Homo sapiens: one gene and its partners. The protein of the gene in region 2 purifies or fractionates together with the protein of the main gene of each other region. This does not show direct contact. Each region holds a gene or a part of one and is shown on either strand. Other genes may lie near its edges. The genes, in order: EOGT, SAMD9 and EEA1.

The links.
Region 1: the proteins of SAMD9 (region 2) and EOGT purify together in Homo sapiens (affinity purification with mass spectrometry; one large-scale study listed by BioGRID and IntAct). This does not show direct contact.
Region 3: the proteins of SAMD9 (region 2) and EEA1 purify together in Homo sapiens (co-immunoprecipitation; one study listed by IntAct). This does not show direct contact.

What each region holds. Positions count from the first base shown.
Region 1 is NC_000003.12:69,003,667-69,007,322, forward strand, and holds part of EOGT (EGF domain-specific O-linked N-acetylglucosamine transferase isoform a precursor), read right to left. Parts: intron 1,569-3,656; coding exon 1,474-1,568; intron 817-1,473; coding exon 712-816; intron 1-711.
Region 2 is NC_000007.14:93,115,042-93,119,217, forward strand, and holds the start of SAMD9 (sterile alpha motif domain-containing protein 9), read right to left. Parts: upstream 2,939-4,176; 5' UTR 2,822-2,938; intron 1-2,821.
Region 3 is NC_000012.12:92,852,695-92,856,350, forward strand, and holds part of EEA1 (early endosome antigen 1), read right to left. Parts: intron 1,261-3,656; coding exon 1,221-1,260; intron 332-1,220; coding exon 218-331; intron 1-217. UniProt on the Homo sapiens protein: Binds phospholipid vesicles containing phosphatidylinositol 3-phosphate and participates in endosomal trafficking.

The DNA of each region.
Region 1 (3,656 bases), on a different chromosome or scaffold from region 2:
TTTTAAATTCAAAAAGCTGGCCAATGATGTTAACAGTCAGAGTAGCATCTACCTTTGGAGAGGGGGATGGGGGTAGAGCCTGGGAGGGAGACTGAGGTGCTGACAATGTTCTATTTTTGGACCTGGGTAAAAGTTACATGGGTGGGTTCACTTTTTCACAATCCAAACTGTACCTTTTTCTGTATGCTTTTACATACTTTAATATATGTGTATTGTTTTTTAAATGGGTTCCCCAAAACACATTTTTATTTTTTAGATTTGAGGTCTCATCATATTGCCCAGGCTGGCCTTGAACTCCTGGGCTCAAGTAATACTTCTACCTTGGCCTTCCAAAGTGCTGAGATTATAGGCATGAGCCACCATTCCTGGCCTTGGCATGGACGTTTGACCTCAAAAATTAACATTATGTAAGTAACCTATGTGACTTTGTAAGTGAATAAAACTTGGCAATTGTGAGTTAATAAAAATGGATTTTTAAGCTGATTTTTTTCTTTCATTAGCAAACAGTAAGTACTGTATCTACTATTATAAACACATACTTAATTCAGATGCAACTGAGGGATTCACTCGGTTTCCGTCACTTCCCAGAAGCTCATGCCAAATTATGTACAAATGAAGTAACATTTTCCATTTGAGAGTCTCCATTAATATCTGCAAGTGCCGTAAATAAAGGCAAATATTTCCGAAACAGATACGTTAAAAATATCTTACCATGACTGCAGAGGGCTTTTGCGCTGACCTTCAGACGTCAATGTACGGATGTCAAGTTTACAGTGCCCTCCAATTTCACCACTCTGGAAAAAGTCCTCCTTAAATCTGGTATATAACAAAACATTAAGTTAAGTTCAGAAAACGTCTTCATGACCCAAGCACGTGGGTTGTAACTAAAGTGGATTACCAATTTCCAAACTGAATTTTTTAAAAGAATTTAACTATTTACAATAGAAAATTTCAAGTGTATATGAAAGTAACAGAATCCTATCAGGACCCTAATGTATCCACAACCCAACTTTGCAATGCGATTAACTCATGGCCTGTCTGAGTCATCCATCCCCCCACCCATTCCCCAACCCCTCTGCCATATCATCAAAAACAAATTCAAGATATACCCCTTCAGCAAGGCTTGGTGGCTCACACCTATAATCCCAGCACTTTGGGAGGCTGAGGTGAGAGGATCACCTGAACTCAGGAGTTTGAGACCCGCCTGGGCAACGTTAGAAGACCCCATCTCTTCAAAAATTAAAAAATTAGCCAAGCCTGGCGGTGCGCTTCTGTATCCCAGCTACTTGAGAGGCTCAAGTGGGAGGATCACTTGGGTTTGGGAGGTCACAGCTGCACTGAGCCATGATTACACCGCTGCACTCCAGCCTGGGCAACAGAGCAAGACCCTGTCTCAAAAAAAAAAAAAAAAATCCCTGGATCTGAAAATATTTCAGAATTTATACTAGATGTTAACATTAACCACTAAAGTACCTGTCATGATTTCTCTTGATGTTTCTTAAATCAAGATAGAGATTGGTTGCTCTGCAGTACTGAAGATAACGGGAACACACCAGACTTGAGTCACTCTGAAGGTTGAGCAAAAGAAAAGAATGACTCTGAGTATTAACACAGCAAAGACTCATCCGGACTTGCTAGACACACTGACAGCACGGATACCCTCACATTCAAACCACACAACATGACAAGGAAAGCTCTCCAAAGACTGCATCTGCTGAAGGATATTTTCTCCTTCCCAGCAGACCCTGGCCAAGCATACTTTTGCCAGTTTCCCACTTTTAAGTTACCATGGAAAACTCCCCAACGATCTGTCACCTCAAATTTTAAAGCCAAGAGCTGTATATGTGGCTCAGTTCAGTCCCCTTTAAAAGAAAAAAAAAGTACCCAGATCCAGTACTACTACCCCCACAGCTATATGAAAAAGCAGCTTCCAAAAGCCAAAAGAAACAAGGAAAAATGCACATGTAAGAGACATTAAAAGCAGGGAGGGAAGTTTGCCAGTTTTAATAAGAGGTGCTTTCTGCAAACCGTAAAGCTTGTGGGAGCCTCTGTCTCAACAGCAACATGAGGGCAATATTTTCTAAATAATTGAAGAAAGGAGTCGAAGAGTCAGCTACCAGAGCCTGATTCTATTTCAACCAATCTGGGTTATGCTCAGAACTTCAAAAACTTTTATCTGCTCTGGGTTTTATTTATAGATTTAAATGCCATTTTAATTGTTTTTCCCAAAACTCCCAATGAACACAAAGTCTCAATCTTGACCTGCATGGTGTTTTGGAGTCTGTAGTTGGTAAAATATTGCAATGGACTGAATGTCCGTGTCTCTGCCAAATTCATATGTTGAAATTCTAACCCCCAATGTGATGATATTGTTTAGAAGCTACCCAGTCTATGGTATTTTGTTATAACAGCCCAAACAACTAAGACAAGGATCATACTCTGCTAGCACAAAGCAAATCAAGGTAAATCTTAATCAAAAGAACATTCTACAAGCCACCTTGAAAGAGGAGTGCAAGATAGGGGTTGTCATTATTATCTTGCCCTTTCCATGTGAACAGCTAGACTTGAGCCAAATGTGCAAGACAGAACAGAACTCTGTTAAAGACACCCTGCGGCCGTGCAGTTTAATGGCATGCCTCACATCCTGAGGCCTCATTCACCTTGCTAGAATGCTCAAAGCTCTATTACGTGACACCCTCCAATAGCTCTATAAAGTATATACTCAGTTTTTGAATGTGAGTAAATTAAAAAATTTTTTTAGTTCTCCAGTGTGGTTGGAGATCGGAGACCCCTGAGATGTCAGAGACTCAGGGTTCAGGATCATTGAACAGTGTACCTTAATCGTAAGTGCTTACAACTTCATCAACCTTTAAAAAATAATGCTGAGCCCTTGGCCGGGAACCAGGCCCTGCTGCACTGAGCATTTTTATCTGCAGAACCTCATTTCTTCCTTACCATATGCTACATAATGGGCATGGCTTTAAGGCAGAGGAAATTGAAACAAGGAAAGCCTAAGTACCTTGTCTAAGACTCAGGATCTGAATTGTAGTTGAGAGCCTGCTCTTGTATTTACTACCCCAAACCACCTCTTGACAACGTGTTTATCTGATCCACTGAGGTACGATATGGTATGGTTGAAAGTAAACTGGAAAAAAACCTGCATTTTAATCCTAGATGTGTAATTAATTTTAAAAGGTAGCTGTGCAGTCTTGGAGAAGTTGCTTAACTCCTCTGAGGACCCTGTTTTCCATACTGATAAAGTGGCATCAGTAGTATCTGCTATAACGCTTATAAGCATCAAACGAGATAACACACAGAAAAGCTTTCTGCAAACTGTAAAGCTCTGGGCAAATATAGAGCAGTATGGTGGTGTTATATCATCTGTCCCAAACTATCTGAGAATGAATTTGTAAAGACGCAGTTTATCAATTTCTCTTCATTAGCACATGTTTGGGGGAATGATTCTAAACCTAAAAATATTTCGACTGTCTTAAAATATGACTATCTGATAAATGTGGGATAAGGAGGACAGGGTTTCCAAAGGAAAGAAAACAACCTATTTGGGGAAGTTACATAAAATTCTATGCCAATAACTAAGTGAGAGTGAGGAATTCCTTTCATAGTGCCGTCTATCTTGTTTTTACATTACAAGCTAA
Region 2 (4,176 bases):
TAAGGATTAGACTTGGCCTACCGGGAGGAGGAAAACCAGTGGGGATTTTCATAGTCACAGGGGCGGGTCTAATGAAGTGCAATTAGAAGTGTTCCAAAATGTTTACCGTAATGGAAATGCAAAGTAAAATTACAACAAGATAATACTACATGCCTACCAGAATGGCTAAAATTAAAGACTGTTAATGCCAAATGTTGGTGATGATGTGGAGTCAGTGGAGCTCTCATATGCTGTCTGTGGGAATGTACATTGTTTTAGCCACTTCAAGAAACTATCAGTTTTTGTGAAGTTAAATATATACCTACTCTTTGGATCTGCAATTCTCATGAAAATTATTAAAGTACTGATACAGGCAACAACATGAATGAATATCACATCATACTGTGTGAAAGAAGCCAGTTACAACAGAAAACATATTGTAGAATTCTACTTATATAGTTTAAGAATAGGCAAAAGTAATCTGTCATAGAAGTCAGACTGATGTTGGGGGGTGGATATTTTCTGGGAAGGGGTGATGGAAATATTTTATATCTTGATATGGCTAGCGGTTGCACAGATAAGTACATATTAAAATTTCATAAAGGCTTACCCTTAAGTTTGTTCATTGTATACAAGTTATACTGTATTTAAAAAGCCAATAATGCCTCCAAAATACATTAGAAAATAAAACGGATGAATAAAATAAAAGAGATACTTGCATAAAAAAGATGATGGTGTGTTATGAATCAAGGATAATTGTGAATTCAATGGTATGTGAGGTCCTAAAGTTTTACTAGGTGTTTATTATTGCAGTCTCAGATTATGAACTTTTGACTTCTGCATCCCACTCAGTGTTGATTCAATACTGGTTTTAGAGTTGTCTAAAAACTGACTACACCCTCGTCTAGTAACCATTCTATCTGAGTCACTTTCTTGTATCCATTTACTGAGTCACGTCTACTCCACCCTATGAAAGTATGCTCACTTTTGTTGCACCCACACTATTTAACACATAAAGCAGGGGTCCCCGATTATTGTGCTGCTAGCGTGCGCTGGCTCCTGAGGCCTCATACCTATGGCTCTCATCCCCCATCTCGCCGCTTCCCACCAGTACCCTTTTCCTAGGGTCTCCCTGACTTCCTTCATCAACTTGGACCTTTCACAGTTTTACAGACACAGTCCTTAGTCTCTGGTGATATGTCATAAACTAGATTATGAGACTGGTGAATTAGATGGATTATTTGATTCATGCAAGAACTACATACCATTATATGTGAAAACGTAAAGTCAGGTTCTCATATAAGAGTGTGGGGGATGGAGAACTGGGCCTGAACATTTGGTTGGGAAAGTAAGCAAATAATAAAGAAGTGACTTTTGACTGTTTTCTCTACTAGAGACACTATGAATATTTCAAATGTCATTGAACAGGTTACACTTTCACACTTCTTCCCCTAAAGCTTTTGTCAGATTATTGATAGCTGTGCCTTTCAATACATTATTTTAAAAAAATTGTTGATGATGTCACTCTTGGAGAAAATATATGCCAGCATTCATAGGTATTTATGCCACTGTTCATAGATATTTTACATATTAATGATTTCTTTATACCCTCTCGTTCCAAAATGTTTTTTAGGTAATTTAGAAAGTAATATAGGATCACACATATATTAAAACCCTTAGGTAAAGAAATCATGGGGAAGGCTAAATAAGGGTAGGGGGAGAAAAGGTGAAATGAGGGAGTAAAATTAGTACCTAAAATTACTGGTTTTGATTCCGTATACTTTAAAAACTGACCTGAAAATTTGGTTCTGAGCATCTTAGTAGGAAACACTATTTGTTACTGATTGAACCCACATACATTTTTTAACTCTGGTTGGTGTTAAACTGTAGGGTTTGTTAACTTTTCTAGAAGGGAGTTGAAGGTCAGACCTTTATTCAGAAATGTGATCCTCCAACCGTCTTGCATTATCTTACTGTTTGCTTTGGGGAGAAATTAGACATAAACCTAGTATTTTTGCCAGGAACATAAAGCTGCCTTAATTCCAAAGACTTCCCATAGTAGTCTATCTGTCTGTCTGTCTTCCTATGTATGTCATCCGACAACAATATCTGAGAAGCTCTCAGAGAGTTTTGTTTTCTGGAAGCTACCTATTTCTTAGAGTAGATGGTGGAAGTTGTATTTGATTAAAGTAAAGTACTTTTAAGTTTTCATTGCCTGTTCTTTATCTATCTTTCCGTTTGTTGTTGTTGTTGTTGTTGTTGTTGTTGTTGTTTTTGAGACAGTGTCTCACTCTGTTGCCTATGCTGGAGTGCAGTGGTACAATTACAGCTCACTGTAACCTTAAATTCCTGGGCTCAAGCAATCCTTCTGCCTCAGCCTCCAAAGTAGCTAGACTGCAGCTGCGTGCCACCACATCCAGCTATTTTTTTTTTTGGTAGGAATCTTGCTAGGTAGGGTCTTGCTATGTTGCCCAAGCTAATTTTGAATTCCTGGCCTCAAACAATTCTCCTGTCCTTGCCTTCCAAAGTGCTCAAATTACAGGCTACCACACCTGGCCTGTTTGTTCTTTCTGAAGATGCTGTATGCCTTGGGAGAGTTCATCAATAAAAGTGTCTGTAGTTTTCAACTGCATCTTTAATGAAATGTTATGACTAATTTTTCAACTAATATAAAGCAGACTGCTGTCAGAGCAACAAATAGTCTAGAATTTCTAGGCTTAGAATACTATTTTTTGTTTTGAGGTATATTTGAAGCTTCTAATTGAAAAGTATATTTCTTTCTATTCAATAAAATGCTGCTATAGATAGTAAGAACAATATTAATAATAGATATTGTACTTACCCAGTAGTCTTGCAAATTTCTTTTACATATATGTGGGGAAAACCATCTCTTTTAGTGCTGAAAATATCTGATGTGTTTGTTTTCTTCCTCCTACGATGCTAGAGAAAAGTATTTTCCTCATTCTGGTTTTAACGGAAGTCTATGTATTCTCTGCTTCTGTCTCACAGCAAGCTCTAATTGGCTCAGAAACAGCAGGGCGTGTTTAACAACTGGGAGGTTGGGGAAGGAAGAATATAGGTTTGGTTTCAGTTTCATTTCTCAGATCTGAAATTACAGCACCGCCTTTTCTATCTGAAATGCTTTTTAATAAGCTATGGCTATATACCACCTTCTGGTCTGCTTGGTTAAAATCTGAAGGCTTAACAATTTTTCCTCACTTGAGAGTTTTGAGGGCTGCAGAAAGCCCCATTGTCTTGTTATAGACAAACTGTGGGATATTCTGGCTTAATTGATCCCTTGGGAATATGAGTTTACATTGCAGTCCCAGCCTTGTAGAGCACCAGGTTGGAGATACTCTAGGTCAATATTTCACTGGCCTTTAAGGGTGGAGTTACTGTCCATTCCTGTTTTCCTAAAGTGTAAAGAATGTCTTTCAGGGATAGGACTTCTTTGAGCACCCCAATAAGTGCTAAATTCATTTATTGCAGAGCAGACCAGGGCTGCAGCAGACCTGATGGTCACATTGTAGAGATTTATCTTTTCTAAGGTCAGTGTCAGGGCCAGAGAGAAAACTGCCTGAGTGAGAGCAACAAAAATAGCTGATATTTTAAAAACTAACAGCAAGTACTGATATTTATTGTGTGTGCTCAATTAGCTTTTGGTTTCCACATCCCACAACTGATTCACACTGGTTTTAGATGAAAACATTTAAAAACATTTATTTTAAAATATTTATTGGGCGCTTACCATGTACCAGGCATTGTTCTAAATGTTTCATATTAACTTAATTACTCTTCACAACAATCTCCTGAGGTAGAGATTATTTTTATCTCAATTTTAAAGGTGAAGAAACTGAGGCATAGAGATTAAATAATATGGCTAAAGTTTGCATAACTAATACATGGCAGAGATTCGAATCCAGGTTTCAGGCCAGTGCTCTTAAATCCTGAGGTTTAGGAAGAAAGAAAGTGGCTATGAAGGACAGCCTAGATATGACCATTACACTTATCACCCTCAGGAGCCCTCCTCGTAAGGGGACCCTGGGCCTGAACTCCAAAACCTGGGTTTCACTTTGCATGGGGACCAGTGTGATGGTTAATTTTATGGGTCAACTTGACCGGGCCACAGAGTGCCTAGATATTTGGTCAAACATTATTCTGGTGGTTCTGTGAGGGTGAGGAGGCAGGACTAGCTTG
Region 3 (3,656 bases), on a different chromosome or scaffold from region 2:
TCTACAAAGAAACACCAGTCCTTTGAAGGCAGGCAGCTAGAGGACAAACAAAATAATTTACATAGCAACTCTGAAATCATTAAATTCCATTAATCACCATTGGAAGTCTATCACAAATGCTTTAACACACTAAAATACTATATTTATTGCTAGGGTATATAATGGCAAAAAGGTAATGAGATTGATTTATTGGCTAAAAAATTCTAACTCAATTTACCTGCAATTTCAGTAGCAAGTTGGGCTGCTTTCTGTTCAAATAAGTCTTTCATTTGCTTAATATTAAAATTTTCTGTTTGGGCTTCTTCTAATTGCTGTTCCAAAGACTGTAGTTCTACAAAAAAGTGTCGCAGTTATTCAAATACCATGTTAATTACATATGCTAAATTGTTATTACTTATATTTATTACAGTTGTAAAGATGATCAACTTAAGTTTATTATCCAATTACAAGTAGTATTTTGACACTTCAAGAAATTAAGTATATCTGCTTCACTTAAGGTACAAATCATAATTTACAAACATACACTACAAATGAAATGAATATTTAGAATCACTGCTAAATAATCTATAAATATTTTATTACAAGTTATTTTGATTTCACATTTCACAGTTATTTTCCCATATCCATCAAATGACCAAAAAGGAATACACCCCTTATCTTTTTTTTAAGAGATGGGGTCTCGCTATGTTACGGAGGCTGATCTTAAATTCCTGGGTTCAAGCCATCCTCCCCTATCAGTATCCCAAAGTGTTGGGATTATAGGCATGAGCCACCAAGCCTGGCTCAAAAAGGAAAACATTCTGCTCCTCTGATAAAATTAGTTATAAAGCGGGATGTTGGAAATGGTTAAGATCTCAAGGCCTTTTAATTCATTAAAGTATGCAGTCAACTCCTAATACTTCATCATAAAGAAAATAAACTATCTTACTCTTAATATAGACTTAAAATTTCATTAAACAACCATATTAATGTAATATTCCAGAAGTTTCTTACTTCAAAATATAATGAACTAAAAAAACTAAACTTTTAGTTAACTGATTAAATTATGAAGTTCACATGTAACTCTCTACACCTAGAATATGACCATTATCTTCACTGTTTTAGAGTCATAAAGCATAACCATGAAACAAAATTCATTTGGCAGGCATCAAAGAAAAAGAAAGGAAAACAAATAAGAAGAAAAAGAAAACTGACAAAATATCTGCTTTAAGTAAAGTTACCTGCTGATGAATCAGTCACCAACCCATCAGGTTTGGCCTCCTCAATTAAAACAAAAGACATAAACAAATGAATTAAAAGGAAAAGATAATACTGTTAAAATGGTCAATGTTAAAAAATCTCTGAAAGTCACTTTCTTTCAGGTAAGTAGTAAGATTTTGGTGAAAATTTAAATTTGGTGGTTTCCATTCTTCCAGATCTGTAAGAGACCAGCAGGCAGACTAGCCTAATGATCTAACTTCAGTTTATTAGTTCTAACATAGATTTTTTTGTATGTTAATATATATGAAGTTATTATGGTCATCTTAAATTCCATGAATTCAGTAATAAATAAATAGCACAATTATTGTAATTATAAATATAGATTCTAAAACAAATACTTAAGTCAACTGGCAACATTCAATCGTATTAGTATGTAGCTTTGAAATAACTTCTAACACTAACATAGTTTGCTACATGGATGCTACATATTTTGCTGTCATAAGAACTTGGAGTGTTATCCCCCTCCGCTCAAGCATGTAATACCTGTTAGACCCCATATGTGAGAACTTGGAATGAACTTCTCCTCTCTTCAGTAGTATTACATCAGACCTTATCATACCGCAGATCTGAGCTACTGACCTCAACTACTGGACTTCAAAATACATATTAACCAAAGAGTTTGAAAGATACTTTGAAAGCTTAGGCCATGGCAGGCTGCACTTTTTCAGCTGCTTTCTTTGAGACTGGCAGCTCATGCTGCAATAGGGCCATATCCTATTGGCCTTAGATCTTTGAGTCTCGGCAGCCAACACCTACATCTCCTCTAGCAGCAGGAGATCCCCATTGTCTGGGATCTCCACTGTTTTGGATGCCATCTCTCCAGAGAGACTGCTCATAAAAAAAGGTACACCTCAACCCTTTTAGACTTTACTTTTCACAAAAGCCTGCTTCCATCCTGAGAAAGTGACTAGACTTTAATAATTTTGGAACTCACCCACTATATGGTTAATATACCTCATCTATTGATATTCCCTGTAAGATTTGTTCATGTTATTTCTCTCCCTTTTAAGCACTGTGAACCGAAGAAAATCTCTCTTTGGCAATAAACCATGCAATTCATGAAATCATACTTCAAATCATGCTTCTTATTACAATCAAACAGAACACCTATAATAGTTGAACATTTGCATTAGTTAAAACATGCTATCAAGCTATCACTACTAAAACTTGCATTAGTTAAAACATCCTATCACGGCCGGGCGCGGTGGCTCACGCCTGTAATCCCAGCACTTTGGGAGGCCGAGACGGACGGATCACGAGGTCAGGAGATCGAGACCATCCTGGCTAATATGGTGAAACCCCGTCTCTACTAAAAATACAAAAAATTAGCCGGCCTGATGGCGGACGTGCCTGTAGTCCCAGCTACTAGGAAGGCTGAGGCAGGAGAATGCTGTGAACATGGGAGGCGGAGCTTGCAGTGAGCCGAGATCGCGCGCCACTGCACTCCAGCCTGGGTGACAGAGCGAGACTCTGTCTCAAAAAAAAAAAAAAAAAAAATGCTATCAAACTATCACTACTAAAAAAATTGGCTTTATAAGCATAAATTTTTAATTCAGGACAAGTCAACTTTAAAAGAAGCAGAAATAACAGATTCCATAAGGCTTAATTTGTCACATGTATTAGGAACAAAATAATATACTACCTTGGCATTATTTTTATATTTTAAAGAATTATACCCATCTGAAAGAGTTTAATAAGGCATTTCCTAGTATATCTGACTTTTTGTTTCTCTATACATTGAACTAAGACATACTGATTGCTAAGAACCTTAAGTATTTAAAATATATTTTCCCCAAAAGGTAAATTTCCTGCCAAGGTAACTTACATCTTGCACTGTGGAAAAGTTATTTAAGTGTATTAAATGTGAAATAGTCATCTCAAATGCAGTAAACAATTTCCACTCTGCTTTCAGATACAGAAAAGAATACAGCCCATACTCAATTAATTATTAATGGCATCTATATAAAACATGAGTAAATGAGTTATAAGTAATTTGGATTACTAAAAACTCCTTTAATGTTAACAGAATCACCAATTAGAAAAGCTGAGTAGTAATAAGACTGATTATCTTGTCATTTATTTATTTGTTTTTGTCTTTTTCAGTCCAACTGCCAATTCTTGGTGCAAAGGCTTTAAAAAGCAAACAAGCCTCACTGAAAGTCACAATATGCCAAGATAACATGCAAAGGGATTATTAATTACTTTACAAAAATATTAGAACTATTGCTGAAGGGTAACTACTTTTATTCTTACAAATGATGACTATGGTAAAATTATTTGGTAAAACTTCGTTAATCTTTGATTCTTCCTATAATTTCAGAATAAAATCAATATAATTTCAGCATAAAAATCATAATTAAGGCATTTACTTAGAAAATACACTAAACTATATAGAA